Homo sapiens: one gene and its partners. The protein of the gene in region 7 purifies or fractionates together with the protein of the main gene of each other region. This does not show direct contact. Each region holds a gene or a part of one and is shown on either strand. Other genes may lie near its edges. The genes, in order: NUP210, MAP7D1, IQGAP3, RPRD2, LARP4B, SEC16A and RPS6KL1.

What was found.
Region 1: the proteins of RPS6KL1 (region 7) and NUP210 purify together in Homo sapiens (affinity purification with mass spectrometry; one large-scale study listed by BioGRID and IntAct). This does not show direct contact.
Region 2: the proteins of RPS6KL1 (region 7) and MAP7D1 purify together in Homo sapiens (affinity purification with mass spectrometry; one large-scale study listed by BioGRID and IntAct). This does not show direct contact.
Region 3: the proteins of RPS6KL1 (region 7) and IQGAP3 purify together in Homo sapiens (affinity purification with mass spectrometry; one large-scale study listed by BioGRID and IntAct). This does not show direct contact.
Region 4: the proteins of RPS6KL1 (region 7) and RPRD2 purify together in Homo sapiens (affinity purification with mass spectrometry; one large-scale study listed by BioGRID and IntAct). This does not show direct contact.
Region 5: the proteins of RPS6KL1 (region 7) and LARP4B purify together in Homo sapiens (affinity purification with mass spectrometry; one large-scale study listed by BioGRID and IntAct). This does not show direct contact.
Region 6: the proteins of RPS6KL1 (region 7) and SEC16A purify together in Homo sapiens (affinity purification with mass spectrometry; one large-scale study listed by BioGRID and IntAct). This does not show direct contact.

The regions. Positions count from the first base shown.
Region 1 is NC_000003.12:13,326,272-13,330,185, reverse strand, and holds part of NUP210 (nuclear pore membrane glycoprotein 210 precursor), read left to right. Parts: intron 1-1,239; coding exon 1,240-1,415; intron 1,416-2,748; coding exon 2,749-2,969; intron 2,970-3,914. UniProt on the Homo sapiens protein: Nucleoporin essential for nuclear pore assembly and fusion, nuclear pore spacing, as well as structural integrity.
Region 2 is NC_000001.11:36,154,409-36,159,080, forward strand, and holds the start of MAP7D1 (MAP7 domain-containing protein 1), read left to right. Parts: upstream 1-1,751; 5' UTR 1,752-2,009; coding exon 2,010-2,055; intron 2,056-4,672. UniProt on the Homo sapiens protein: Microtubule-stabilizing protein involved in the control of cell motility and neurite outgrowth. Facilitate microtubule stabilization through the maintenance of acetylated stable microtubules.
Region 3 is NC_000001.11:156,527,566-156,531,065, reverse strand, and holds part of IQGAP3 (ras GTPase-activating-like protein IQGAP3), read left to right. Parts: intron 1-748; coding exon 749-961; intron 962-1,636; exon of another isoform or gene 1,637-1,736; intron 1,737-1,983; coding exon 1,984-2,150; intron 2,151-2,455; coding exon 2,456-2,557; intron 2,558-3,005; coding exon 3,006-3,114; intron 3,115-3,500.
Region 4 is NC_000001.11:150,461,369-150,465,282, forward strand, and holds part of RPRD2 (regulation of nuclear pre-mRNA domain-containing protein 2), read left to right. Parts: intron 1-3,158; coding exon 3,159-3,359; intron 3,360-3,914.
Region 5 is NC_000010.11:826,871-830,784, forward strand, and holds part of LARP4B (la-related protein 4B), read right to left. Parts: intron 2,865-3,914; coding exon 2,811-2,864; intron 2,725-2,810; coding exon 2,515-2,724; intron 1-2,514. UniProt on the Homo sapiens protein: Stimulates mRNA translation.
Region 6 is NC_000009.12:136,476,292-136,480,205, reverse strand, and holds part of SEC16A (protein transport protein Sec16A), read left to right. Parts: intron 1-1,375; 5' UTR 1,376-1,497; intron 1,498-2,521; 5' UTR 2,522-2,590; coding exon 2,591-3,914. UniProt on the Homo sapiens protein: Acts as a molecular scaffold that plays a key role in the organization of the endoplasmic reticulum exit sites (ERES), also known as transitional endoplasmic reticulum (tER).
Region 7 is NC_000014.9:74,913,128-74,917,041, reverse strand, and holds part of RPS6KL1 (ribosomal protein S6 kinase-like 1), read left to right. Parts: intron 1-521; coding exon of another isoform or gene 522-569; intron 570-3,914.

The DNA of each region.
Region 1 (3,914 bases), on a different chromosome or scaffold from region 7:
TGGGACTGGCACCACAGCTTCCTGACTGGAGTGCGGGTGCTCCACCCACTGTGCCTGGCCACTGATGTTATCACCACCCATGGTGGAGCTCCTGTTCTGGGCCAGCCCAGTGTCTGGAACATGGTCTGTTCTTAAGAGCATTGAATGTTGTGCTCAGTACCTGCCATACAAGTCGTGACATCCAGTACGTGACATCCACTGTGGTTTTGAGAATGAGGTGGCCCATTTTCCAGACAAGGAGACTGAGGCTCAGAGTGAGAGTGACTTGCTTAAGCTTGCATGGGGGTTGAGTGATGGGGTCTGTCTGGTTTGGGCCGTGTCCTTCTGCCATATCATGGCACTGCCCTCTGCCGTTCTGTGTTCCTTACGGATGGGACCTTCTCCATCAGCATCCCTGGGTCAGGTCCTGGGGTTTTGCTGAATGGAATTTTCTTTCCATGTCTCATCATCACCACTTGCTGAACCCTGGATGACAGAAGACACACACTCACTTAAATCTTTAGACTCTGCCTGGGTCACAGACCTCTTTCATTAATTCACATCATTTTGTTTCAAAATGGGTGCCTGGCAGCAAATCCCCCGCTCTAGTTTTTGGTGAGTGAAAGTGACTGACTGCTCATCCTATTTCAACAAATATGTACTGAGCACTAGCTGTATACCAGACACTGCACCACTGAACTTTGTTAAAGAAATTCAGACCTTTGGAGCACTAGCTTTTGAGCGAGGATAGATTTTCACCTGGACTCAGAGAAACAAGGGCTGCTGTTTATGGAGCTCGGGTTCTTGGGCTCCAGAAATCCCCATTTCCCTCCTTCCCCTGGTGGCCTGCAGGGCATGCTGTGGCCTGCTTAGCGCTGCCCCTGCGATCGAGGAGGATTTCGTTTCTTTAAATGCCCCAAGAGCCAGGTTCTCTGAAGAAACTGGACATTTGCAGCCCAGGGGGCCCTCTTGCAATGTAAATAGTGATCTCATTTATTCAAGTCATGGATTGGGACACTCCTGGGTGGGTTTTCTCATAGAGAGGCCAGTCTGCTGTGTTGGGAAGTAAGAACCTTGTCACTAGGTTGGGACACTCTGGGGAGTGTGGCCTTTACTCCTCTCAGGACCCCTAAGTCCAGCCCTGCATTGTTCCTGAGGTGGATCCTGCTGGGGGCAGGTGTCCCCTCCTTGGGAGGTGGGTTTTCCTGGAGGCCAGTCCCTGGCACTGAATCCTCATCATACCTGTATGTTGTCCCTTAGGTATCCCCTGTTTCCTACCTGAGGGTTTCCATGAGCCCTGTCCTGCACACCCAGAACAAGGAGGCCCTGGTGGCCGTGCCTTTGGGAATGACCGTGACCTTCACTGTCCACTTCCACGACAACTCTGGAGATGTCTTCCATGCTCACAGTTCGGTCCTCAACTTTGCCACTAACAGGTAGGATGTGGGCAAGGGTCATTTCTCCTATGAAGTCCTGTCTGGTACCTGGTAGAGACAACTGGGGATAACACAGAAAGTCTGCTGCTGTTGAAGGAAGATGTGTATTACTTCAGTTTCCAAGAGATGTGGGCATGCTGCACCATGCAGGGCCACGAGGAAACACCACTGCCCTTGGGGGATGTAGACCAGCTCAGAGGAAGACAGACAGGCATCAGCCCCCAAAGGAGGAAACAGGGCATGGGGCAGCTCCAGGGAGTGCTCCCCGAGGCACAGGAAATTGGCCCTTCAGCTTCGGCTGCCCACAGGTCCTGCCACAGTTGTGTTTCCCTGTTGCTGAATGCATTCAAAGACAGGTGTCAGGGGTGTTGCCTTATGGAAAGAACTGGGGTTTAGAGTCAGGCCTGGTTCTAGCCCCAGCTCTGCCCTTCGTGGGCCCTGTGAGTAGGTCACCATCCAAAAATCTGTTTCCACACCTCTCACGTTGGGCAATATGGCCTAGGTTCCAGGGCTTTCCTTCAGCTGAGGGAGTGGTCATGAGGACCGCTGGCAAACCATGGCACTCCGTGTGTGCGCACATAATTGCCATCCATCAGTTTAGGGCATGTCCTGGAGGAAATGGAGCCCAGTTCTCCCAGCCCTTTGGCTGCACTGCAGGTCATTCTGGCCTTCTTGTAGCAGGAGCACCTGATAGAGACCTAGTCAGCACTCAGGGTCAGAAGGTGTGGTGGAGGCAAGGATGCAGCCATGATCCCTAACCCAAACTGTCACCCCACGCAGTCCACACTTCTGCACCAAAGCTGCCATTGCCAACATTGACTGAGCACCTGCCCTGTGGCAGGTGCCTCCCCACTGCTGACCTCATGTAATGCTTATGCCAGGCCTGCGTCACGGTCACGTGATGATCCCCATTTTTCAGAGGAGGAAAGGGGCAGAGGCTGCTTCTGCAGTCAGGTTGCATAGTAAGGGCAGCCTTCCCTTTCTGGCATGTCCAGTTCCCTGGTGGGAAGAGCGTGAGGAAGCACTCTGGATCTCTTTCCCCTCGGGGCCTCAGCTTCCTTTCTGAAATGCAGGAATGATGCTGCTGCCACTGTTTGGCTGCGAGCTGCATGTGCTTTCTGGCATGACAAGTGAGGAGGTCGAGCCTGTGCCACCTGCCTGCAGTGGTCCCTCATCTGGGGCCACTGCTTGGTAACCTCGAGTTGGGGCCACACCTGGGACCTCAGTCAGTTGAATGCTTTGCTCAGCAGAGGACATGGATTACGTTTCTCCCTTTGGGAGTTGGAAGCTTCTTTCCCGAGACTGAGAGCCCTCCTTTCTCTCCTGTGCCTAGAGACGACTTTGTGCAGATCGGGAAGGGCCCCACCAACAACACCTGCGTTGTCCGCACAGTCAGCGTGGGCCTGACACTGCTCCGTGTGTGGGACGCAGAGCACCCGGGCCTCTCGGACTTCATGCCCCTGCCTGTCCTACAGGCCATCTCCCCAGAGCTGTCTGGGGCCATGGTGGTGGGGGACGTGCTCTGTCTGGCCACTGTTCTGACCAGCCTGGAAGGTAAGATAGATCCTGAGCAAGGGAACCTGTGGAGTCACGGACGCTTGCAAAGCTGGGTGGGGGCTACCTGGGCAGGGGCTCGGCACCAGTCACGGGGGCCTACAGGCAGACCTGCAGGATACTCAGGAGCAGTGCTCCAAAACTGCTGCCCGGAGACCAGATCCAGCCTGTGCCTGTTTTCTGCAAGTAAATTTTTGTTGGCACTCAGCTGTGCCATGCATTATGTATGGTCAGTGGCTGTTGTCACCCTACCACTGCCAGATTGTGTGGTCATAGCAGAGATTGTATGGGCTGCATAGCCCAAATGCTTATGTCCGACCTTCACAGAAAGCATTTGCCAGCCCTTTTCTGGAACAGCTCTGCCAAGTCGGTGGGGGGGTCCCCTGCCCCTGTGGGGCATCCTGTCTCTGCATAGTCTCACTCAGTTCCTCTAGCCAGGAGACACACGGATCTCTGCTGCTGCTGAGGAACTGAATTCACCATTTTAGTGAATTCTGTGGGAAGTGGCCGCCATAGTGGACAGCACAGGCTGGGAGACTTAAGCAAAGAAGGACACTGGGCTAAATCAGGGGCTTCCAAATTTCAGCCATGCCCAGGTGACCTGTAGTACATCTGTGGAACACGTGTACAATTATTTACTTAGCTTTTATTTTCAAATTGTCTCCACCTTTTTTTTTAACCTTACTAAATTCATTTTAAAAGGAGATGAAATACTACCTTTAAGGAAAAACAAATATAATTTGCCATAAATAGATTATGGTTGAGTCCTTTAATTGTACTTATTATATAATGTGATTGGCTTTTAACTCAGATGTGTATGTGGTGAAAGCTCTGAGCCTCACACCTGCTGTCTGTTGCTAAAAAGGAATTGATAAGGCAACGAAGGGATGGGGAGGGGCTGTGCTTTGGGGAAGGAGCTACAGAGGGCAGGGCCTGGCAGCAGCA
Region 2 (4,672 bases), on a different chromosome or scaffold from region 7:
AAGAACCATTCCAGAGGGCTCTCTCCCCATACGTGTTCCTGAATTCTCCTGAGTCTGGTCACTGCCTGAGTCAGGTCTGGCCTGTCCAGCTCTGGAAGAGGCAGGCTGTGAGGCCCCTGACCTCACAAAGGACTGTCATGAACTCCGTCATCCCCGCAGTCCCCCCACCCTGCAGATAAGATGACTGACACAAAGATGGGGGATCTGCTCCTCGTCCTTCCACTTTTACTCATCAATGCCTTCATCACCATTATACTTGTTTACTGAGCACTTCCTAGATGCCAGGTTCTGTGCTCAGCACTTCATTTCCATTGCCTTATTTAATCTTTACAAAGACCCCAAGATACCTCATGGCACTACTATTTTTCTGATTTTGTAGGAGAGCAAATTAGATTTTAGAAAAGTTAAGTCACTAGCTCAAGGTTACTGGCTCCAGTTGCCGCCCTTCTATCATCATCCTTTTCTAATGTTTTTGGGCCAGAGGGGACACTATTCCCTTCCCAGGCCTTCCCAAGAGTGTCCAAGCCCCCAGATACGCACACATCCCAGGACAGGCTGCTCCCAGGTTGCCTGAGCCCCTGACCCTTTTGTTTCCCACTCTATCCCTCCAAATGGCCGCTTTCTGGAGCTGCTTAAAGGAAGGAGAAACTGGAGGGAAGGGGGGCAAGGGGGACAGTATCTCACTGGGCCTAATCTCTGGACAATGAAGAACTAGAGAACTGACCTTCTAGAAGTCAGGACAAAGGGCAGGGCCAGGGTGGGCAGGGCACAGCTGCCCCTCCTCCTCCCCCGCAACCCAAGTCCCTGCAGCAGCACCACCATCATCCATCCACCTTCCCAGCAAGCTCCCCACTCTGCCCCGGGCTGGGCCTGGCTTGGCTTGAAGCCCTCACCTCAGCTGGCACCAACAAGGGGGCTGGGAGTCCATTCTGGAGGGCTGGGAAGCAGGGCTACTTTGGGGAGTGGATTCTGGAGGGGGTCACCACCCCCTCATCGACAGACCACTGGGAGAAAATCCTTCTGGGGTGATTGGCGGGGTCGTCTGGTGGGGGTGGGGGAGGTCCAGGGCTAGGACCACCCAGTTTGGAGCCGGGAGGGACCCAGCAGATTAGAGACCTGGGTAAGGCAGCTGCGCAGGGCTGTAATTACCCCCAGAGGAGCAGGGAAGACACAAGCGCAGAATGCCGGAGCAAGGGCGGCAGCAAGGCTCCCAGACCTGTCCCCAGCCCAGCCATCAGCAGGGGAGAGAAAGCGAAACCCTTTCAGGGGTCTCCTTGTGACTCTCCTTCATGCCTCCCGACGTCCCCCGGGCCGCTTTGGTTTAGGTGGGTTTGAGCGAGAATTTGGACTCGAAGCTGCCCTCTCAGCCCCAGTGCCAGAGCCCCCAAACTCCAGGGTGGGAAAGGGGAGTCCCAGCCCTGCTCCCCCTCTCCCCCAGTCCCCGCGGCGGGTGAGTCACCCGAGCGCTCCCTACTTAGTCCTCAGGCGCTGCGGCGCGTACCAAGACGCGGACGCAGGGGGAGGCAGCTAGCGCGGCGAACTCCTGGAGCCGTGGAGCCCGCTCGGCCGTGGCCGTGGGAGAGGCGCCGGGAGGCTGCGGGCGCGGGGCTCCGGGGCGGGGGCGGCGCGAACGGCGCGGACGGCGCGGGCGCGGGGGGCTGGGTCCCGGGGCGCTGCTGGGGTGGACCCCCCCGCCTCGAACTTGGTACGCGCCAGCGAGAGGCCAGGCCCAGCCCGGGCGGTACAATAGGGTTGGGCCGAGGCCGGGACTGGGCCGGCGCCGGGCGGGGAACGGGTTCGCGACCGCAGCCGAGAGACCCCGGGCGACCGGCACCTCCGAGACTCGCGGGCCACCTGCCTCGACCTTCCCCGGAGCGCCCCCGCCTCCGAGTCGCTACTTGCCGGGCCGGGCCGGGCCGGGCGTGATGCGCCGCGGGACCCCTGTCCTGGCCACTGGCCGCCGCCGCCGCCGCCGCTGAGACCCCGAGACCCCCAGTGACGCCGCAGCCATGGAGAGCGGCCCGCGTGCGGAGCTGGGGGCGGGCGCACCCCCAGGTATGCCGGGAGCCACGCGGAGGCGAGATGGGGGTAGATGGAGGGGCTGCAGGGCGGCCGAGGATGAGGCCGGCCGGCTGGGCGGGGACCCCTCCGCTGCCGCGCCCTCTGACCACTTGGAAGTTTAAAAATAAAGGCTGCGGCGGCGGCGGCTCCAGGCTCGCGATGCATCCTCTGACAGCTGCCCCCTCCCCCACCCCGGGTGCCGGACGCATCGGGCGTCGGGAGCCGCAGGGACCCCGCGCGGGAGTTGTTGGGGTGACCCTTCTGCCCCAGCTTAGTGCCATCTCAGCTTCCCCGCCCCCACGTCCCTTCCCGATTCACCCCGGGCCTTGAAGATCCTCTTCTACTGAGCTAGGGCTTCCGTCCCCTTCCCCATCCCCCGTGGCACATGTGACCCCAGCCTGAGTGTGTCGGGGGTCCATATTCTCAGGCCTGGGCCCTGCATACCGACGCCTCGGCCTTAGTGCCCGTACCCTCAGGCCCTGGCCCAGACCTCGCCCCCACCCCATCCGTCCAGCTGCCGCGCAAAGGGCCTGTTGCTGCTGCGGGCCGGCGGGGAGGGGAAAGGAGGGAGGGGAGGAGAGAGGGAGGTCTCTAGCCGCTGCTGCCAAGTAACCCGCCGGATAAAGGCGAGGGGGAGGGGGAGGCGGCATTGTTTGGGGTGAGGGCGGGAGCTGGGGAGTGGGCCGCCTCCCCTGCAGCCAGGCCTACTCTGGAGCCCACCCAGCCTGATTCGGGGAGGAGGGGGACAGAAGTAAATCTGCTTCTCCTGCCTGCCCTCCTTCCCAGCCTCTCTGGGCCCCAATCTCCCACTAGAGAATGAGGTAAAGGCTCCAAGCCGGCACTCCCTGGACCTGCCACATCATTCCCCAGCCTGAGGCTTTGATACCTCCCCCCTTACTCTCTTTTTTTCTCTCTTTCTGCCCACACCTTAGACCACCAAAGCTCCCCTCCCCTCCCTCACCCCACCAACCACCAGTGCTCAGGACTTCTGCAAATCCCATTCGGATCTGGGAGCAGCTGATGAGGGGGTGGGGACAGGTTTCTGGTTGGGCTTGGTTTTGGAGGGAGGCGATTTCTCTTTCTTCCTGGAAGGGGAGGGAAGAACATGATTATTGAAGACCCAAGTTCTGTTCCCATTGACTCAGGGGGGAGGTGGCCCCATCCCCACACCCCCATGGAGTCCTGAGCCTAATCCTGTCACCTCCCTGCCCCTTGGGGTGTGGGCACAGGATGAAACAGTTCGTGTGGGTGCGGAGAGCCCAGGATAAGGTGGGGCCAATGGGCTGTGGGTGGGCTCCTCCCCATGCCAGCGAGGATGCTTCTAGGGGACTGTCTGGGTGTGGGACCTGGGAGAACAGGGAGGGGAGGCTACCATCAGACTGGTGGGTTTCAGGAGGCTTGTAGGCTGGGCTGGAAACAAGGGTGGCTGGGTCTGTCCTGGTTTGGCTGAACCTGAGAGGGGACACCCAGGGAGGCCCAGCCTGAGTCCAACCTCAGCTTACTGGCCCTCTGCACCTGAGGGCCTCTGGCACTGGATAGTTGGGGGCCTGAATGGGGGTGGTGACTGGGATACAGAGCCTGAGCTGGTGGCTAGTTTATAATTAGGATACTTGGGTAGGATGCCTAGACTGAATATGAGAGCATGGGTGAGATGCTTGGCTCTCCTAGGGGCAGGGGGGATGTTCGGTGGGCGGGGAGGGCTGCGTCAGGGGCCGGTGGGCAGACTGCATATAGGCTTCTTGCATTGAGAGGACTCTTCTATACACAGGGATCTAGATGGAGTCACATGAGAACCTGGATCAGGATGGTGGCAGTTCCCCACACAGAATAGTCAAAGGTGACAGGAGTCCTCTGTGGGGCTTTCTGGGAGTAAATGTGCTCACAGCATGTGCCCTGTGATAGTCTGAGGCATGGGCCTGACACTCCGAGAGCATGTGACACGAACCCTGCTCCCTCTGAGTTCCTTTTTGCACTTGGACACTGAGCAGTAACAGGGGGTGGTGTGGAGTAGAGGACAAGTGTGGGGACCACTTTCAGGTCAGAAAACCTGGATGGAAATCCCAGTTAGCCATGTACTGGCTACTGGACTGGAGCAAGTGACTTACCTCCTGGAGCCACAGTTTCTGCCCCTGGAAAATAGGGGCAGTGTTGTCAACCTTGTGGGGTTAATGTGAGGGTTAGAGATGATTTAACTCAAGGAATCTGGCACGCAGACACCAGACACCTGCAATAAAGTGTTATTACCATTATTGTGGTTATGCTTCTGCAACCGGTGCCAGCAGGGAGGTATGAAATATAGGGGAGGGTGGGAGCAGGAATTGGAAGTCGATTTGTTTAAGAGTGTAGATTTTGGAATTAAACAGTTTAAGTCTCCACTTCGTAACTTACCTCTGTGTGACCTCAGTAAGTTGCTTAACCTAAGTCTTAAGTTTGCTCATCTGTAAAATGAGAATAATGCTAGAAATTATCTCATAGAGACATTGGCATCCTTAAATTAGATGAAAACAGAAAACACTTAGACTAGGCCCTGGCACATAGCCAGTGCCCAATAAGTGCTAGCCATTTGTTATTTATTTATTTATTTATTTATTTATTTATTTATTTTGAGACA
Region 3 (3,500 bases), on a different chromosome or scaffold from region 7:
ACATCAGCCAGAAGCAGACACCTGTGCTCACCAGTAATGAGAACTCTGGAGGCCTACAGGATGAGGGATACAGCTTTAGCCTTGGGAAGCCTCGGGCTACAGAGTCATGGGGCCCCACCCCTCTCCCCACTTCACACACTGAAACAAGCACCAACACTAGGGCTATGGGGGGCACTGAGAGACCGTCTGGGAATGCTCCCCTGGAAGGCCTGCACTCAGAAGAGTGGTCTGCTAGAATGCCTGGAGGCAGGAGAAGGTAGTAGGCAGGTGGGGGGCCAGGGGCAGGTTGGGCCCGCTGGAGTGAAGACTGAACCAGGGTCTTCCCAAAGAAAAGGTGGGGATGGCCAGTAGAGGTATGTCCCAAAACAGAACAGACAGGTAAATGCCCCCAAACATCCTGTGCCGTCAGAAAGATCCATTGTTGGGAAGTCACAGCTAGTGTCTGTCCGGAATCCTTTATGCCATGGCCTGGGTTTGGTTCTCCTTTGGGCCACTCTTCCCCTGTGGTGATCTATGAGGCCCTCCCATGTGTGACACCATGCATTATGGTGTTATACCTTGATATTCTTCATAAGCGATGCCCTGCCCCAGCCATATCCTGCAGAGGCTGGGCTCTGGGGCACTTTCTTAATGATATGCAGAAAAATGCTCAGGCCTCCCTTTGTTGCTGGTGCCCATGGGACCTTCACTGGTGTGGGAGCAGAATGGTAGGACCTGGTAGACCCCTCCAGCGTCTGTGTGTCCCCAGGAAGCAGCCCACAAGCAGCTGATGAGCCGACGCCAGGCCTGTACAGCCCAGACACCGGAGCCACTGCGACGACACCGCTCACTGACAGCTCACTCCCTCCTGCCACTGGCAGAGAAGCAGCGGCGCGTCCTGCGGAACCTACGCCGACTTGAAGCCCTGGGGTTGGTCAGCGCCAGAAATGGCTACCAGGGGCTAGTGGACGAGCTGGCCAAGGTAACAACCTGGGCCTGGGCTCCGTGTGCCTGTGTGTACGTGTGTGTGTGTGCGTGCATATACATGTTAATCCATAGTGTTGGTGGGCCCCTCCTGATGAGTCCTCACCCAAAATTGTCACCAGCCAGAGGAAGGCTGAGGGTCCTTTTTGAAGGAAAGATTTTTTTTTCTTTTTTTTTTTTTTTTTTGAGACAGTCTCACTCTCATCCAGGCTGGAGAGCAGTGGTGTGATCCTGGCTCACTGCAACCTTCACCTCCTGGGTTCAAGTGATTCTCCTGCCTCAGCCTCCCAAGTAGCTGGGATTACAGGTGCGCGCTGCCATGCCCGGCTAATTTTTGTATTTTTAGTAGAGACACGGTTTCAGGCCATGTTGGCCTGGCTGGTTTCGAACTCCTGACCTCAGGGTCCGCCCATCTTGGCCTCCCAAAATGCTGGGATTACAGGTGTGAGCCACTGCACCCAGCCAAATTTTTGTATTTTTAGTAGAGACAGGGTTTCACCATGTTGGCCAGGCTGGTCTCAAACTCCTGACCTCAAGTAATCTGCCCACCTTAGGCTCTCACAAAGTGCTGGGATTACAGGTGTGAATCACCACTCCTAGCCTGAAGGAAAGATCTTGAAATTAGTTAGAGAGGAAGGTGTTCTTGCAACTCTCTTTTTTTTTTTCTTCCCCACATTAGCTGGGTAATGTGCCCAGGTCAGAAGGTTTGAGAGAAGCATATCTCACACAAGAGCATGAAAACCCAATCCTCAGCTTATGACCTACAAAAGTATCCTTGCAACTTTCTTTTACTAAAAAACAAACAGCCTTGAAACCAGTTAGTCCTCAACGGGCAGAGGCCCTGAGGACATGCCTTGAGGATTTGGAATACCATCCTTGAGATTTTCCTTCTAGGAAAACAGCCTTGAAGCCTGTTCTTCCGAAGAGCCTCACAGTGTGTAGCTCTTGGGCCTGTGTCAGGCCCTAAGGCTCTCCTGCCAGGAAGGACCACTCATCCCTCCATCTGTTCCCCAACCCCAGGACATCCGCAACCAGCACAGACACAGGCACAGGCGGAAGGCAGAGCTGGTGAAGCTGCAGGCCACATTACAGGGCCTGAGCACTAAGACCACCTTCTATGAGGAGCAGGGTGACTACTACAGCCAGTACATCCGGGCCTGCCTGGACCACCTGGCCCCCGACTCCAAGTAGGTGCTGCTTTCCCGTACTTGGAAGGTTACGAGTGACTTCTCACCCCTGCCCATGTCACCTTTGCCCTGCTATCTCCCAGCTTTGAAAGGGGAATCTCACCCAGCACAGCACAGTCCCTTCCTAAGTCTGGTCTTTGAGCCTCATTTACAAAGTCTTGGGCTCAAGTGCAGCCCCCCTCCTCTGTCTTCCATCAGTGAGAAGTCTTCCTCGGGGTCTCATTTCCTTTCCAGCCACAGAAAACAAGTTTCTTTGGTGGTAAAGTGTTTATTGGATGAATTCTCTGGGGCCTTCTTTTAATCAGGAGTTCTGGGAAGGGGAAGAAGCAGCCTTCTCTTCATTACACTGCTGCTCAGCTCCTGGAAAAGGGTGTCTTGGTGGAAATTGAAGATCTTCCCGCCTCTCAGTATGTGTCTTTGGAGGGCAGGATGTCAGCCCCTTCCTGTCCTCTAACCTGGGGGTGGAGCTCTGGGCTGGGCACCGGGTGGAAGAGAAGAAGCATGGTCCCGATCTTGAAGGAGCTGCTAGAATGATGGTGGAGACAGAGCATGCCCAGACAGAAAGTGAAGGGCTGTGGACATGGTCTAGCACAGTTCTAGATGCCCTGAGGCAGAGGGTACTGGGAAAGCTTTCCAGAGGTGAGAACAGCTGCGTAGGGCGGGGCAGATAAAGAGATGGTGTGGGGAGCAGAAGTAAAATGGAGAAGACAGCGAGCTGGGCCCTCTGGGAGTGACAGAGGGAAAACTGGTTCTGGATGACACCGCTGCCCAGGATGAGGAGCAGTGGGTGCAAGAATGTGGCTGTAGCCCTGGAAAGAGGCAGTGGGTTCCTGTTTTGAATCCTGTTCCTGACAGCTTCAGAAACGTCATCTTTGACATCACGCCGGGAGATGAGGCAGGAAAGTTTGAAGTAAATGCCAAGTTCCTGGGTGTGGACATGGAGCGATTTCAGCTTCACTATCAGGTGAGGGGACAGTCCCATGAGCCTGCAGGACATCTGCTGGGCTTTAGGTGCTGGCCTGAAGAGAGCAGCTGGCCTCACTTTCCTAGTCCTCAGATGACACCAGCTCAGTTTTTCACCCAATCAGTATCGTCTGTTCCTGAAGAGAAGGGTGGGGGTCTGTGCAGCCCAAGCCCCCCTTTCCCCATGCCCTGACACAGACCCCACTGGCAAGCATCAGGGAGAGTGGAGTGGGCTACTGGTGTCAGAAGCAGGATTAATATTTGAAGCCCTATCACATGTCAGGGACTTTACATGTTACCTCCTTTAATCCTCTCCACAGCTCTGAAGTATTATCCCTATTTTACAGGCTCTAGGCTAAAAGGTTAAGAAGCTGGCTAAGTCATAGG
Region 4 (3,914 bases), on a different chromosome or scaffold from region 7:
AAAAAAGTAAGTGTATTGCATATACTGTTTCAAAACTAGCTATTTAAAAGTTAATTACATATCTTGAATGTTTTTATGAATCATTAAATATTTCTCTACATCATTTTTAATAGCTGCATAGCATGTGGTAACTTATCTAATCCTTTATTATTAGGCACTTAGTATGTTTCCAGTTTTTTACTGTTATGAAGAATACTATAGGGCCAGGTGTGGTGGCTCACGCCACCACTTTGGGAGGTGGAGGCAGGTTGATCACTTGAGGCCAGGAGTTGGAGACAAACCTGGACAACATGGCGAAACCCCATCTCTACTTAAAAAAACAAAAATTATGGCCGAGCGTGGTGGCTCACACCTGTAATCCCAGCACTTTGGGAGGCCGAGGCGGGTGGATCACGAGGTCAAGAGATCGAGACCATCCTGGCCAACATGGTAAAACCCCGTCTCTACTAAAAATACAAAAAAATAGCCAGGCATGGTGGCGGGCGCCTGTAGTCCCAGCTGCTCGGGAGGCTAAGGCAGGAGAATGGCCTGAACCCAGGAGGCGGAGCTTGCAGTGAGCCAGGATCGCGCCACTGCACAGCCTGGGCGACAGAGCAATACTCCGTCTCAAAAAAAAACAAAAAACAAAAATTAGGCCAGGTTTGGTGGCTCACGCCTGTATTTCCAGCACTTTGGGAGGCCAAGGCAGGCGGATCACCTGAAGTCAGGAGTTCAAGACCAGCCTGGCCAACTTGGTGAAACCCTGTCTACTAAAAATACAAAAATTAGCTGGGCATGGTGGCATGCATCTGTAGTCCCAGCTACTTGGGAGGCTGAGGCAGGACAATCACTTGAACCTGGGAGGCGGGGGTTGCAGTGAGCCAAGATCACGCCACTGCACTTCAGCCTGGGCAACAGAGCAAGACTCCGTCTCAAAAAAAGAAAAAATTCGCCAGCTGTGGTGGCACGTACCTGTAATCCCAGCTACTCATAAGGCTGAGGCATAAGTATCATTTGAACCCAGAAGGCAGAGGTTGCAGTGATCCAGGATCAAGCCACTGCACTCCAGCCTGGTTGACAGAGCGAGACTCTTGTCTCAAAAAAAAACAAAAAACAAAAAAAAAACCTGTAAATTATAAAAATTTTATGAATAACCCTTTGCAAGGGTTAAGTATATAAAACCTTTTTAATGGAATTTTATTTTTATTTATTTATTTATTTATTTTGAGACAGTCTCACTCTGTCCCCCAGGCTGCTGGAGTGCAGTGGCGCGATCTCAGCTCACTGCAAGCTCCGCCTCCCAGGTCACGCCATTCTCCTGCCTCAGCCTCCTGAGTAGCTGGGACTACAGGTGCCTGCCACCACGCCCAGCTAATTTTTTGTATTTTTGGTAGAGACGGGCTTTTACCATGTTAGCCAGGATGGTCTCGATCTCCTGACCTCGTGATCTGCTCGCGTTGGCCTCCCAAAGTGCTGGGATTACAGGCGTGAGCCACCGCATCCGGCCATTTATTTATTTATTTTGAGACAAGGTCCCACTCCATCACCCAGGCTGGAGTGCAGGGGTGCAGTCATGGCTCACTGTAACCTCAAACTTCTGGGTTCAAGTGATCCTCCCACCTGAGCCTTTGAGTGGCTGAGATCACACGTGTGCACCACCACATCTGGCTAAGTTTTGTGGGTTTTTTGGTAGAGACAGTGTCTTACTATGTTGCCCAGGCTGATCTTGAACTCCTGGGCTCAAGTGTTCCTCCCATCTTGGCCTCCTAAAATGTTGGGATTACAATCATGAGCCACTGCACCCAGCCCGAAATTTTTTAAATAAATTTTGCCAGGCAAGGTGGGATACCGTGTAGTCCCAGCTACTCGGGAGGCAAATGCAGGAGGATCACTTGAAGCCAGGAATTCCAGGACGTGTAGTTCACTGTGATCACGCCTGTGAATGTCCACTGCACTCCAGCCTGAGCAACCCAGTGAGACCATATCTCAAAAACTAAATAAAAATAAAGTATTTTAATATATAACTAAATTGATATCCAAAAAAGTGCTATTTTATATGACTAATATATGAAAGCTTCTGTTGTTCCTTACCTTCTCCAGTTACTTGCCTTGTGCAGTCTACAAATCCAGCCTTAAAAAGTTGTTTAATTTCCATTTCTTCTATGAAAGATGTTAAAAATTTTTTTCCTTTGCTTCTCACTTAAGTTTCTTTGTGAAATATCTGTTCATATTTATCTTTTTTAAAATAACAAATGTTTTTCTCTTTATATATTTTATTTCCTGTGTTAAAGATCAACCCAGTGTTTTTAAATGTAAAAATATAAAGGAAATTTCTTAAATAATCTCATTTTAAAAGCTATTTCAAAAGCATATAACTTACCAGTCACATGAAATTATGCAGTGGCTGAGTTATACAACTGCAGTGGCTCTCAGCATCCAGTCAGCCAGCAGTATTTATTGAGCGCCTACAGGGCTCTGAACTGTAGGTGCCATTTGGTGGAGAAAAAAGATTGTCCAGGTGTGGTGGTACATGCCTGTAATTCCCAGCACTTTGAAAAGCCAAGGTGGGAGGATCACTGGAGGTCAAGAGTTGAAGACCACCCTGGGCAATGTAGCAAGACCCTGTCTCTATTTTTTAAAAATAAATAAGAAATATTGGGGCTCTCAAAACTATGAAAATCACTTAATACTTGTTTTTTTCAAGACAGAGTCTCACTGTGTCTCAACTCTTGTCTCACTGCAACCTCCACCTCCTGGGTTCAAATGATTCTCCTGCCTCAGCCTCCCGAGTAGCTGGGATTACAGGCGCCTGCCACCATACCCGGCTAATTTTTTATTTTTGGTAGGGACAGGGTTTCCCCATGTTGGTCAGGCTGGTCTCGAACTCCTGACCTCAGGTGATCCGCCTGCCTCGGCCTCCCAAAGTGCTGGGATTACAGGTGTGAGCCACCTCGCCCGGCCAATACTTGTTTGTTTTAATGGTGTTCCAAGTAAAAGGAGATAATCTTTTCAGGGTTTTTTTTTTTTTTTTTGTACATGTCATGTTATGATGGACCATTTGTGGATCAACCACAGAAGAATTCCTGTTAAATATATCAAACTCATTGAAGTGAGGGGAAGTATCGGAAATTGAAGTCATTTTGAATTGCATTTTCTTGAGTTCATCTTTCTGCCACCAGGGGTCAGTCCTGCATCAAGACCTTCTCCAGGAACGCCCACCAGCCCCAGCAACCTCACCAGTGGCCTGAAAACACCTGCACCTGCCACGACAACATCTCACAACCCTCTGGCAAATATCCTCTCCAAGGTGGAGATCACCCCAGAGAGCATTCTGTCTGCACTTTCCAAAACCCAGACACAGTCAGCCCCTGCACTGCAAGGTAACTGACATATGCCAGAGGGACTCGAATTGTGAATGTTTGTCTCTGGCTTAAATTAATCCTGGATTCCATTTCTGATGAATCCAGAGCCATAAAATGTATAACACAGTTAATTCATTATTCTTTTTATTTATTTATTTATTTATTTATTTAAAATTTTTGAGATGGAGTCTCACTCTGTTGCCTAGTTGGTGTGCAGTGGAGTGCTCTCGGCTCACTACAACCTCTGCCTCCTGGTTCAAGTGATTCTTCTGCCTCAGCCTCCCTAGCAGCTGGGATTACAGGCCCACACCACCATGTCTGGCTAATTTTTGTATTTTTAGTAGAGATGGGGTTTCTCCATGTTGGCCAGGCTGGTCTCAAACTCCTGGCCTCCCAAAGTGCTGGGATTATAGGCATGAGCCACCATGCCTGGTGGTCATTATCCTTTTTTTTATTTTAGACAGAATTTCACTCTTGTCGCCCAGGCTGGAGTGCAGTGGCCCAATCTCAGCTCACTGCAACCTCAGCCTCCCAAGTAGCTAGGATTACAGGTGCCCACCACCACATCCAGCT
Region 5 (3,914 bases), on a different chromosome or scaffold from region 7:
AAAGAATATTATAGCTTAGGACTAAAATAAAATCATACAAAAGGGAAGTTAGAATCTTCAATTTGCTACTTGAGAAACTCTTCACTCTGTAAGAATCGGACTTTTTAAAATACATCACACATGGCCGGGCGCAGTGGCTCATGCCTATAACCCCAGCACTTTGGGAGGCCAAGGGGGGGCGGATCAAAAGGTCAGGAGATCAAGACCATCCTGGCTAACATGGTGAAACCCCGTCTCTACTAAAAATACAAAAAAATTATCCGGGCGTAGTGGCGGGCGCCTGTAGTCCCAGCTACTCAAGAGGCTGAGGCAGGAGAATGGCGTGAACCCGGGAGGCGGAGCTTGCAGTGAGCCAAGATCCGGCCACTGCACTCCAGCCTGGGCGACAGAGAGAGACTCTGTCTCAAAGAAAAAGAAAATACATCACACTTGAAGAGCCATGAATGCAGACCTGGATCTGAGGCTGTAAATCATGGGCAGAGCAATGAGGACTAATCATTTCCAGCAAGTCATTTTACAGACAGAGCCCTGATATTCCAGTAATTTTGCTCAAGATAAAAAATAAAATTGGTCATATATAAAAAATAAAGTTGATTATTAATGCGTTCCTATTATTACTTGTTGGGGATTAATAGGCACAATCTCTTCAGCTGCAGAACAAAGGACGCACATGTTTTAGCACAAGTAAAAGGCTGCGATGGAGAGCCCCAGTATCACAGACTCAGAGCAGGACCAGCTGTCTGGCACACACCGCAACCTGAACATACAACATAAGTCAAGGCCATAAGCTGACCCAGAACCCCAAGGATCCCCGAGAGGGTCAACCATGATTAAAGAAACGGAAGAAGCAACTGCTGCAGGAAGAACTGAAAGGACTAGCATGGCAAGCCACGTGCAGCGATGATTCTTCAACACCCAGAGCCTACGGACTCAAGTCTCTCTGAGGTTCTCTCATGATATGCTTTTGGGAAAACGAAGTATTCAGCTATGGGTACACTTTTATAGAATGTGCTACTTCAAAAAGCCAGAAACTTTTCTTACCATCAGGACTTACTCAAAAGAGACAGAAGTAACTTTACCAAAGGTTCTTACACTGCGGTGGTTCCAGACTCAGGGGGAATTGGGGTCCTCTGAAAATCTCTCCCTGTCCCCACCTGCCCTTCACACGGCCTTAGGAGCTATTTTCTAAATGGAGTATGGTTTCATTTCTCCGCTTAGAAACCTCAGACACCTTCCCACAAGCACTAGGCCAAAGCCCACATGCCTCAGGACAGCTAAGCACCTGCGCAGTTAGGCCTGGAAACTGCCAGCTCGTTCCCCAACTCCCTGCCACCCGGTGTACGCTTCAGCTCAGACACCCATGAATCTACGACCATCTTCTGTTCATGAAACTTCTCTTTGATTCCTTCTGAAAAACTCATACTTAACCTGAAAAGCTCAACCTAGATGACAACACAATCCCTGATAAGACCTGTCAGTGTTCTGGCATTCTGTACACGTGTCTCCTTGGCATGTTTGACTTTTCCAGCCTGAGTTGTTTCATGGACCCGTATCTTTACTTTCCGTGTATACAGGCACTTGTTTTCTCAAGTTCTCTCTGCTCTGCACCTACCCTCCTTTTCTGCCTGTCAGCGGTGACATCCCTGCACATCAGGGTGCCTGGCTCCCAGCCATCCGACCCTGAGGACCACTCAGTCTTTCCCTTAGTCCACAGCGAAACCCTGGACATGAACTCTTCTCAAAGTTACTAACTCAATTTCTGCTTTCTGACCATAACCTTCTATGTATGCTACCCTTCAATCTCTCCAATTCCAACTAACCTGCATTGCTACCTCATGCAAACCTCTAGGCCATGAACCCATCTTCACTTCTCAACTAGACTTCAGCTTCAAGGACATGCTCATCCGTGTATTGCTGACTCTCGTGCATCCAATGCCACCAAACTCATGCTAATTCCCACCCAGAATGCACTTGATCTTTCAAGCATCTATAGCAGCACACAAAGAGACAATGTCTAGATCCAGTACAGACTTATGAATTCCAACCATAGGCCTTAACAAAGGCCAAAATCCATAAAAATTAATCCTGTCGACCAACTCTAATGCTGGTGAGAAGTGAGTAAAATAAGGCTGGTAAAACAGCAGGCCTTCTCCTTGGCCTTGCTGTCAGAAGCCTATTAAACACCTCTTCCTCCTCAGTTAATCCCCCTTGCATTGTACTCTGTGTAGGGGACGCCAGGTACACTACAGCACTTATCGCCCTCTGCGTCTTGCTAAGAGCTGCATGACAAGAGGGGAGACGGGCTGTGCAAGGATTGTGCTCACAGCAATCCAAAGTTCTTTATGCATAAGCTCTGTTCTCAGCTACATTTAAAATCCCCCACATAACTTGAAGGTCTGTTTTAGTATGTCAGACTGCACACATATCTGGCTTCCTATTAGATGAGGATTTTAATCCTTCAAATTATCTAGCATAGTGTCTACAACATAAATTCCTAGTAAAGAAATGACGTACCAAGGGTGGGTCAAGATAGCTGTGCGTTGCTGACCACGTCTGGGGAGTGATCAGGCTGTACAGGGGGAACTGCTGCTGGGGGCTGTACATGGGAGGGAAGTAGAACGACGTCGCGTAGCGCTGCTGGGCATACAGGCTCACGTCCAGGGGTCTAAATCCATTCTTTGGCAAAAATGTGTTTATAGCTATTGCCTTTGCTTTTATCCGTGCCTGTTTGAAAATATGTAAGTTTCTATTAGAATACTTAAGAACATCAATTTGCAAATAAACAAAGTATAACCAATGGTCTTGCTTACCTTAATTGGTTTTCCTTGAAAAGTTTTGACTTCTTCTCGAAGGTATTTGTAAGCCTAAGGGCAAAATTAAGTACAAAATTCCATTCGATTAACCTTATGAATAAGAGGCACCAATAGTTCACTCAATAGCTCAAATAGGGAAATATATAATTAAATTATGGTGAACAGAACCTAGAATAATGATTCTTGACACTCCCTGGGTCACAGATCCCTTAAAATAACCTCATAAGAGCTATGGAACGTGTACCCCAAATTCTCACAAACAAGATTTGTACACAATTTTGTAAGTATTAACAGATGCCATAGAAGTCTCCCAAAGACCACTGGCTAAGAACCTTGACCTGGTGGAAAATGATGAATACTGAGTTCCTAGTATTCATCCCAATTTCAGATTAGGAGAATGCAGTTCAGGAAATACCAGACAGGAAGGAAAAGGATTAGGATCATAACATCCAAAAGTCATTCTTGATATATCTCCTTGTTCTTCTCCATGTTAATTCTACATTAAACCCCTATAAAACTGTGAAGGCCCTGCACCTGATTCAATATCATCCGACCACATTCGCCACACGGGCTGGCAGAGCTCACACTCCACTCCACAAAAATGGTTACTCTATCTTCCGTTCCCCTTTTCCCCCTCCATCCAATTAAAACCCATCTTTCAGGTTTCTGTGTTTTCTTTTCTGAACCCCACATACTGTTTATACCATTTAACACTTTATAATATGTGCGTTAGTTTCCTCACAAATAAGATGCTTCCCTTAAAAGCAGGAAAACTACTAACTCCTCACGCCTCCTTACAGAGCTTACTTCTCAATACCATTAAAAGCATCTTCCAAAATACAATGAAGTCTGCTGGGAGATGAAGATTAGGTTCAAATTTCCCCCCAAACACTTTGCAAATAGTAAAACTTCTCTGCCCAGATAGAAGAACAAAACTGATTTTCCTAGGTTGCTTAGCTTGTTGTCCTTAGAAAGTAAAATCACATGCTTTTTATATTGCTATAAAAATTGTCCATACAAATACACTCAAATATTTAAGTTTCTACAACTTGATTTCCTCTGCAGATTATATTCAAACTTACCATCACAAGTAATCTCAAT
Region 6 (3,914 bases), on a different chromosome or scaffold from region 7:
TGGTAGGACCCAGTGGAAGATAATGCCAGTGCACAGATCAGAGGAAGATGCTCTGCCTGTTCTCCTTTCAGTCCATATAAAATAGAGCTGTGAACATTCTTTGTTTTCAGATGAGAGCCTAAAACCTCCATGAAGCCTTTGCTGCTGTTCCTAGTAAATAGCTTGACTTAAAATACATTGATCAGTGTTTTCTTCTTTTTTTTTTTGAGACAGTTTCACTCTGTCGCCCAGGCTGGAGTGTTGTGGCTTGAACAAGGCTCACTGCAGCCTCAACCTCCCTGGCTCAAGCGATCTTCCCACCTCAGCCTCCCGAGTAGTTGGGACTACAGGCACGCACCACCACGACCGGCATTTTTTTTTTGGTGATGGGGTATCGCTGTGTGTTGCCCAGGCTGGTCTCAAACTGCTGAACTCGAGTGGTCCTCCTACCTCCCAAAGTGCTCGGCTTACAGGTGTGAGCCACTGCACCTGGCCAGTGTTTTCTTCTTTTATCTGAATATCAGAAAGATTTCCAAGAGACCAAAATAATATACATCTGCAAAGATGTGTGGATTGGCCAGGCACGGTGGCTCACGCCTGTAATCCCAGCACTTTGGGAGGCCGAGGCGGGTGGATTATGAGGTCAGGAGATCAAGACCATCCTGGCTAACATGGTGAAACCCCATCTCTACTGAAAAGACAAAAAATTAGCCTGGCATGGTGGCAGGTGCCTGTAGTCCCAGCTGCTCAGGAGGCTGAGGCAGGAGAATGGCATGAACCTGGGAGGCGGAGCTTGCAGTGAGCCGAGATCGCACCACTGCACCCCAGTCTGGGCGACAGAGCAAGACTCCGTCTCAAAAAAAAAAATGTGTGGATTAAACTACAGAGTCCTCCCCTTTGGTTTAATTTTTCCTTTGATTGGCTAAACTTATCTGTTTGTTCATGAGGGTGGTGCTGACAAGAAGAAAGACTGATAGAAAGAAAAGAACTTTCCTAAAGATATAGTCCTTGAATTTTTGCCTTAAGAGGCCAGGTTAACTATTCAAGTTTGTATCTACTATGTTTTATTTAAAAACTGATGGAGGTTTTTGCCCCTTTCTTTTCTGTAAGAGGTTTCTTGGCAATTCTGCCTGTTGTTGAAAGTGTTGGAATCCAGTCTGTGCCTTGTAAAGCTGCTTTAAGTTTCCTGGGAGTTTCCATTCCAGGCACAGTTACGGCTCCAGTTCAAAGGTAACATCTTGCTGGTGGTCCTTTCAGACCTTAAGCCAGTCACAGTACAAAAACGGAGACCTATGAAGAGGTGTGATAAAAGGCATTTAGATGAATATATTTATTTTGCAGTGCTTTTTAAAAAAATGATTGTGTCACTTTTTATTTATTTATTTTTTTAAAATAGAGACCGTCTTGCTCTGTTGCCCAGGCTGGACCGCGGTGGTATAATCATAGCTCACTGCAGCCTCGAACTCATGGACACAAGTGATCTTCCTTCCTTAACCCCCTGAGTCCCTGGGACTACAGGTGTGTGCCACCATGTCTGGCTAACTTTCTTCTTTTGTAGAGACAAGGTCTTGCTATGTTGCCCAGGCTGGTCTCGACCTCCTGGGCTCTGGCAGTCCTTCCACCTTGACCTCCCAAAGTGCTGGGATTACAGGCATGAGCCACTGCACCCAGCCTATTTTGCAGCTTTTATAACTATACTTCATAATGCTCTTTCATCAAAGAAAATGGAAGAATGAATTTTAAACTTTTGTATCCCTTTTGAAATTTAAAATTAACATGTATGGAAAGTATGATATAAAGTTTTCCTTTTTTTTTTTTTTTTTTGAGCTAGGGACTCACTGTGTCACCCAGGCTGAAGGGTAGTGGTGCTGTCATAGCTCACGACAGCCTCAACCTCCCAGGCTGACGCAATCCTCCTGCCTCAGCCTCCTGAGTAGTTGGGACTACAGGTGTGCACCACCATGCCTGGCTGATTTTTGTATTTTTTGTAGAAACGAGATCCCCCTGTTGCTCAGGCTGGCCTCGAATTCCTGGGCTCAAGTGGTCCTCCCGCCTTGGCCTCTTAAAGTGTTGGGAGTACAGGCGTAAGCCACCATATCTGGCCAGTTTTTCTTTCTTAATAGAAGAGTTGGCTCTTCCTGGATCTAGGGATGGTTTACAGGAAAACATTGAGTATCTGTGGGTCTGGTAGCATATCACAGCAGTGGTCAGGTTCCGCACTGTCCCTGTTGTTGTGGCGCGGGTCTGCGGCAGCAATGGGCCCTGTGAGTAGAGGATCCCAGGGGAGGGAGTGGCCATCTAGACATACTCCATCAGCTCGCAGCCAGGCCATCCAGGGTTCTCACTCTGTCCCCTGCCCCCCAGAACAGTTCCTCAGGGACAGGTGTTCTCTGCTGGGGTGGGGTGTAGGGGAGAGAGAGTCCTTGGGATTTAAGTGACATAAAATCATGTTCAATGTTTCTCTTTTTCCTTAGTTTTCCTGATTGCAGCTAGGACTTTGAATATATGGATTTTATGCTGATTTTCTCTTTTTCTTTTCCAGCTCCAATTAAGGAACAGCTATATCCTGCTTCCTTCTGTAAGCAGCATCGACTTGTGCAAGGGTTCAGTCATGCAGCCACCGCCCCAGACGGTCCCGTCTGGCATGGCTGGGCCACCTCCAGCCGGGAATCCTCGGAGCGTGTTCTGGGCTAGCAGCCCTTACAGGAGACGGGCTAATAATAATGCAGCAGTGGCTCCGACAACTTGCCCGTTGCAGCCGGTCACGGATCCATTTGCTTTTAGTAGACAGGCGCTCCAAAGTACACCACTGGGCAGTTCGTCCAAAAGCAGTCCACCTGTCTTGCAAGGCCCAGCCCCCGCAGGGTTTTCTCAGCACCCCGGTTTGCTTGTTCCTCACACACATGCCAGAGATAGCTCTCAGGGACCCTGTGAGCCCCTGCCTGGACCTCTGACACAGCCCAGAGCACATGCCAGTCCGTTTTCTGGTGCATTGACACCTTCAGCACCTCCTGGGCCTGAGATGAACAGGAGTGCAGAGGTCGGTCCCAGTTCAGAGCCTGAAGTTCAGACTCTGCCATATCTTCCTCACTACATTCCAGGAGTGGATCCTGAAACGTCTCATGGGGGCCACCCTCATGGGAACATGCCTGGGCTCGACCGACCCCTGAGCAGGCAAAACCCACATGACGGTGTGGTCACCCCAGCAGCATCCCCTTCCCTCCCTCAGCCTGGTCTGCAGATGCCAGGACAGTGGGGGCCAGTGCAGGGAGGCCCACAGCCCTCGGGGCAACATCGTTCACCCTGCCCTGAAGGACCTGTTCCCAGCGGGGTGCCCTGTGCCACCAGCGTTCCTCATTTCCCCACCCCGTCCATCCTACATCAGGGCCCTGGTCATGAGCAACACAGCCCTCTGGTGGCTCCCCCAGCAGCCTTGCCCAGTGACGGAAGAGACGAGGTGAGCCACTTGCAAAGTGGAAGCCACCTGGCCAATAACTCTGATCCTGAAAGTACATTCAGGCAAAATCCCAGAATTGTGAATCACTGGGCAAGCCCAGAGCTCAGGCAGAATCCAGGAGTGAAGAATGAGCACCGGCCCGCCTCTGCTCTTGTGAACCCCCTCGCCCGGGGAGATAGCCCAGAAAACCGTACGCACCACCCACTGGGGGCTGGGGCCGGGTCTGGCTGTGCCCCGCTAGAAGCAGACTCAGGAGCTTCAGGAGCTCTGGCGATGTTTTTCCAAGGGGGAGAGACAGAAAATGAGGAGAATCTCTCATCTGAAAAAGCAGGCTTATCTGGTCAAGCGGACTTTGACGATTTCTGCTCCAGCCCTGGGCTAGGCCGTCCGCCCGCACCTACACACGTGGGGGCAGGCAGCCTCTGCCAGGCCCTTCTCCCAGGCCCCAGCAATGAGGCTGCTGGTGATGTGTGGGGTG
Region 7 (3,914 bases):
CCTCCCCACTGCTTGAGTGTCAGTGGCCACGACCCAACCTTGGCTGAGCACAGCCGTTCCCAGGGACTGGCCGGGAGGTGACTGACACCGTGCCTCCCGGTACGATCCCGCTGAACCATAGGTGTTGTGGTGAGAGGGGTTCTGAGCTGAGTATGATAGGAAAACAGCGAGTTGAAGTTATATGGCTTTGTTTCTTAATGATCGGAGTTCTTAGAGTGTTTAGGTGCAGATGTACACTGTGACACAGAATTCCCCAAACTTGTTTAGCCTCAGGAAAGTGGTTTAGGAATCCAGTGTTTCGAGGCCCCTGCAGATGGAAAGCACAAATTAAAGCCAAGCCCAACCATTTTTTTTTTTTCTTGACACAGGGTCTCGCTCTGTAGCTCAGGCTGGAGTGCAGTGGCGTGATCTCGGCTCACTGCAGCCTCGACCTACCAGGCTCAAGCAATCCTCGCACCTCAGCCTCCTGAGTAGCTGGGACCACAGTCTCAAGCCCTGCTATTGTCTTCTATTTTTTGTAGAGAGATCTCGCTGTGTTGCCCAGGCTGGTCTCGAACTCCTTGCCTCAGGTGATCCTCCACCTCCGTTTAGGCCTCCCAAAGCACTTGGGATTACAGGCGTGAGCCAGTGGCCCGCCGCATTCTATTTCAGGACTACCCTTCTTTTTTTTCTTTTTTATCCTGTCTTGGGTACTCAACTTAAGGACTTCACCTCCCTCCTGAGATCCTACTTCCTTTCCCTGTGTCATGCCCAAGCCAGGAGCATCACTTTCCTCAAATTAGGAAAGGTGTTACTGCCCCTGGGCCTGGGTCCCTGCAGCCAGACTTGGATATACTGTCACCCTTGTTCCATTCCACAGCTGTGCCCAGACAGATCTGGGCAAGTGGGCAGTGCCAGCCAGCAGCAACCCTCAGGCCCAGGGAGGAAGCAAAGGGCTTGCTCGGGATGATGCTTGAGTGACCCCTAACGTGTCCGGCTGTTAGGATAACTAAGGGCTGAAGAGATGGTGGCAGGGAGCAGTGAGGTGGGTGGGTCGGGACTTGGCAAGCAGCCAGAATACCCGAGGGCCTGGCCTCAGAGCCTGGGGGCCAGGGAGACATCACCGGGTATTTGCTGAGCCTCGTGCAGGAGCCAGGCTCTGAGACAGGGTGGAGGAAGAAAAAGAAGGTCATCCAAGTCACTTCTTCTTTTATTTGGCTTAAACACAGGGGTGTTTTTTTTGTTGTTTGTTTTTTGGGTTTTTTTAGTTGTTACCAACATTTGAAAATGTGCAGATTCTTATAAAAGTCCAGATTTCCTGCTTCTCTTGAAAAAATCAGATCTGGAAACGCTGGCCTCCCATTCCCCTGTGGCAGCAGGGAGTGGAGGAGGAGATGCCTGCCTTAGACGGGGCACCAGCCCTCCTTTCTGCGCCTCCACCCTGCCTATTTGCTCACATGCCTGGCCCCTGTGGACCTTTGAGTTTAAGAACTTGTTTGAAACCTTTAGGCTTGTTTGTTCCATGGGAGAGTCCTCCTGGGATTTTGATACTTTGTGCATCTTTAAAGAAAAGGTTTACCGTGTTTCACCAAAGCTTTAATTGTCCCTCTGTCCCAAGAATTCAGTGGGTCTCTTTATTTAAAACAATTGCTCTTTTTTAAAAGGTGAGAGAAAGCACTCAGAACTGCCTTCCATCTTCCCAAATGGAAGGCTCACCCGACAGTTGTATGGAACCTTCTCATTTACAGAGCTGTGGCATTAAATCCTCACAGTCACCATGGGGGAACGAAGCCTTATAGGGTGCTGTTCAACACAGTAGTCACTAGGCACATAAGCCTCTGTGCATTCATATTCATTAAAATGAAGTCATCTGTGTCTCAGTTGCACCAGTCACATTTCAAGTGCTCAATGGCCCCATGTGGCTACTGGCTTCCATATTGGACAGTGCAGACATATAATCCTGCCATCATGATAAGAAGTTCAATTGGACAGTGCTGCATTTTAATACTTGTCCTACAGAGAATTAAACTGAGGTTCAAAGAAGTCAGCGGGGCTGGGCGCAGCGGCTCACACCCATAATCCCAACACTTTGGGGAGCCAAGGTGGGTGGATCACCTGAGGTCAGGAGTTCAAGACCAGCCTGACCAACATGGTGAAACCCCGTCTCTACTGAAAATACAAAATTAGCTGGGTGTGGTGGCACATGCCTGGAATCCCAACTACTTGGGAGGCTGAGGCAGGAGAATCGCTTGAACTTGGGAGGCAGAGATTGCAGTGAGCTGAGATCACACCATTGCACTCCAGCCTGGGCAACAACAGTGAAACTCCGTCTCAAAAAAATAAATAATAAACAAAGAAGTCAAGGCACTAGACAGTCCTCCATCCTCCAAACCACTGAGTAAAAGGAGTTTCTTGTTTGGTTGGATGAATGGGAAAATGCCTGCTGCTTTGCTGCCCTTTTGAAATATAATGAAAGAAAAAGGAGAAGAAAAAGAAAATCCCCTGAATCCTGCCGAACTCCAAGATAATCACTGTTAATGTTTTAGTCTAATTATTTCTGAATACTGAGGTTGGTTTTAATATGTTTTTAACAGAAATCTTTCAGTGTATGGATCAAGGTTTATTTCTGGCCTCCTCAGCCTTCCCTCCTTCGCTAGTTTTTTTGGACTCTGTCAGTTACAGGCCCTTGCCCAGGACCAGGTGGTGGGGAATCCCACTTGGCAAGGGACAGTGGGGAATTATCTGGGGTGTCAGGATTTGTGGGAAACTCTGTTCTCCTAAATGACTCCAGAGTTTTCTTCCTTGCTTTTTCTAACATTGCACAAGTTTGGTCAGGGAGCCAAGCCCAGGCTGGACTCGGTCTCTGGCTGTTGGAGGAGAGACCTCTGGTGGTTGGAGAGGACACCTCGCTCCTGCTGAGAAAAGGGTCCTGGGCGCTCTCATCTAGTCCACTGCCTTCCTTTCACTGATGATGGAGAAACAGGCTCAGGAGGGAAGGCCATTGCCAGGGTCACCTGGTTGTGCCCCCAGTTCCAGTAAAGTCTGCAGGGCTCCGGGATCAGCCTGTCTGGGTTCAGGTCCTGACTTGACCACTTTTTAGCAGTGGGACAGTAGGCAACATAACCTCTCTGAGGCTCAGGCCTGAATTTTGGCAGGATTGTGGGGATAAAATTAAACAACCTATGTAAAGTGCTTAGCACAGAGTAACCACTTTACAGCCAGGGTGGGCTTCCCCTCGGATGACACTGGTAATAATCACGACAGGTTATCAAGGGTGTGTTCTGCGGCAGGTGCAGGCTGCTGCTCTGCCTGAATTGCCTGCTTTAACAGAATCCTCTTCAGGACCCCCTGAAGGAAGTGCTGCTATGACCCCGTTTTGTACTTAAAAAGAGCAAGGTTCAGAGAGGCCATGTGACTTGGCAGATGTGATCACTGACATTCTCACAGCCTTTCCACTCACCAAGGGCTTTCTTGGTTTTTTGTTTTTTGTTGTTTTGTTTTGTTTTTGAGATGGAGTCTGTCTCTGTTGCCCAGACTAGAGTGCAGTGGCTTGATCTAGGCTCACTGCAACTCTGCCTCCTGAGTTCAAGTGATTATCCTACTTCAGCTTCCCAGGTAGCTGGGATTACAGGCGGGCACCACTATGCCCAGCTAATTTTTGTATTTTTAGTAGAGACGAGGTTTCACCATGTTGGCCAGGCTGGTCTTGAACTCCTGACCTCAGGTGATCCACCCGCCTTGGCCTCCCAAATTACAGGGATTACAGGCATAAGCCACCACACCTGGCCCTCACCAAGGGCTTTCAGAATGGCTTCAACAATCCAGAGATGTAGGGAAGGTAGGCATTTGGAATTCCTGGTTGGTAGATGAGAAAATCAATTCAATTTGCCCAGGATCGAAGCCCAGTGCCCCTTCCCCTACCCTGATCCCAAGCT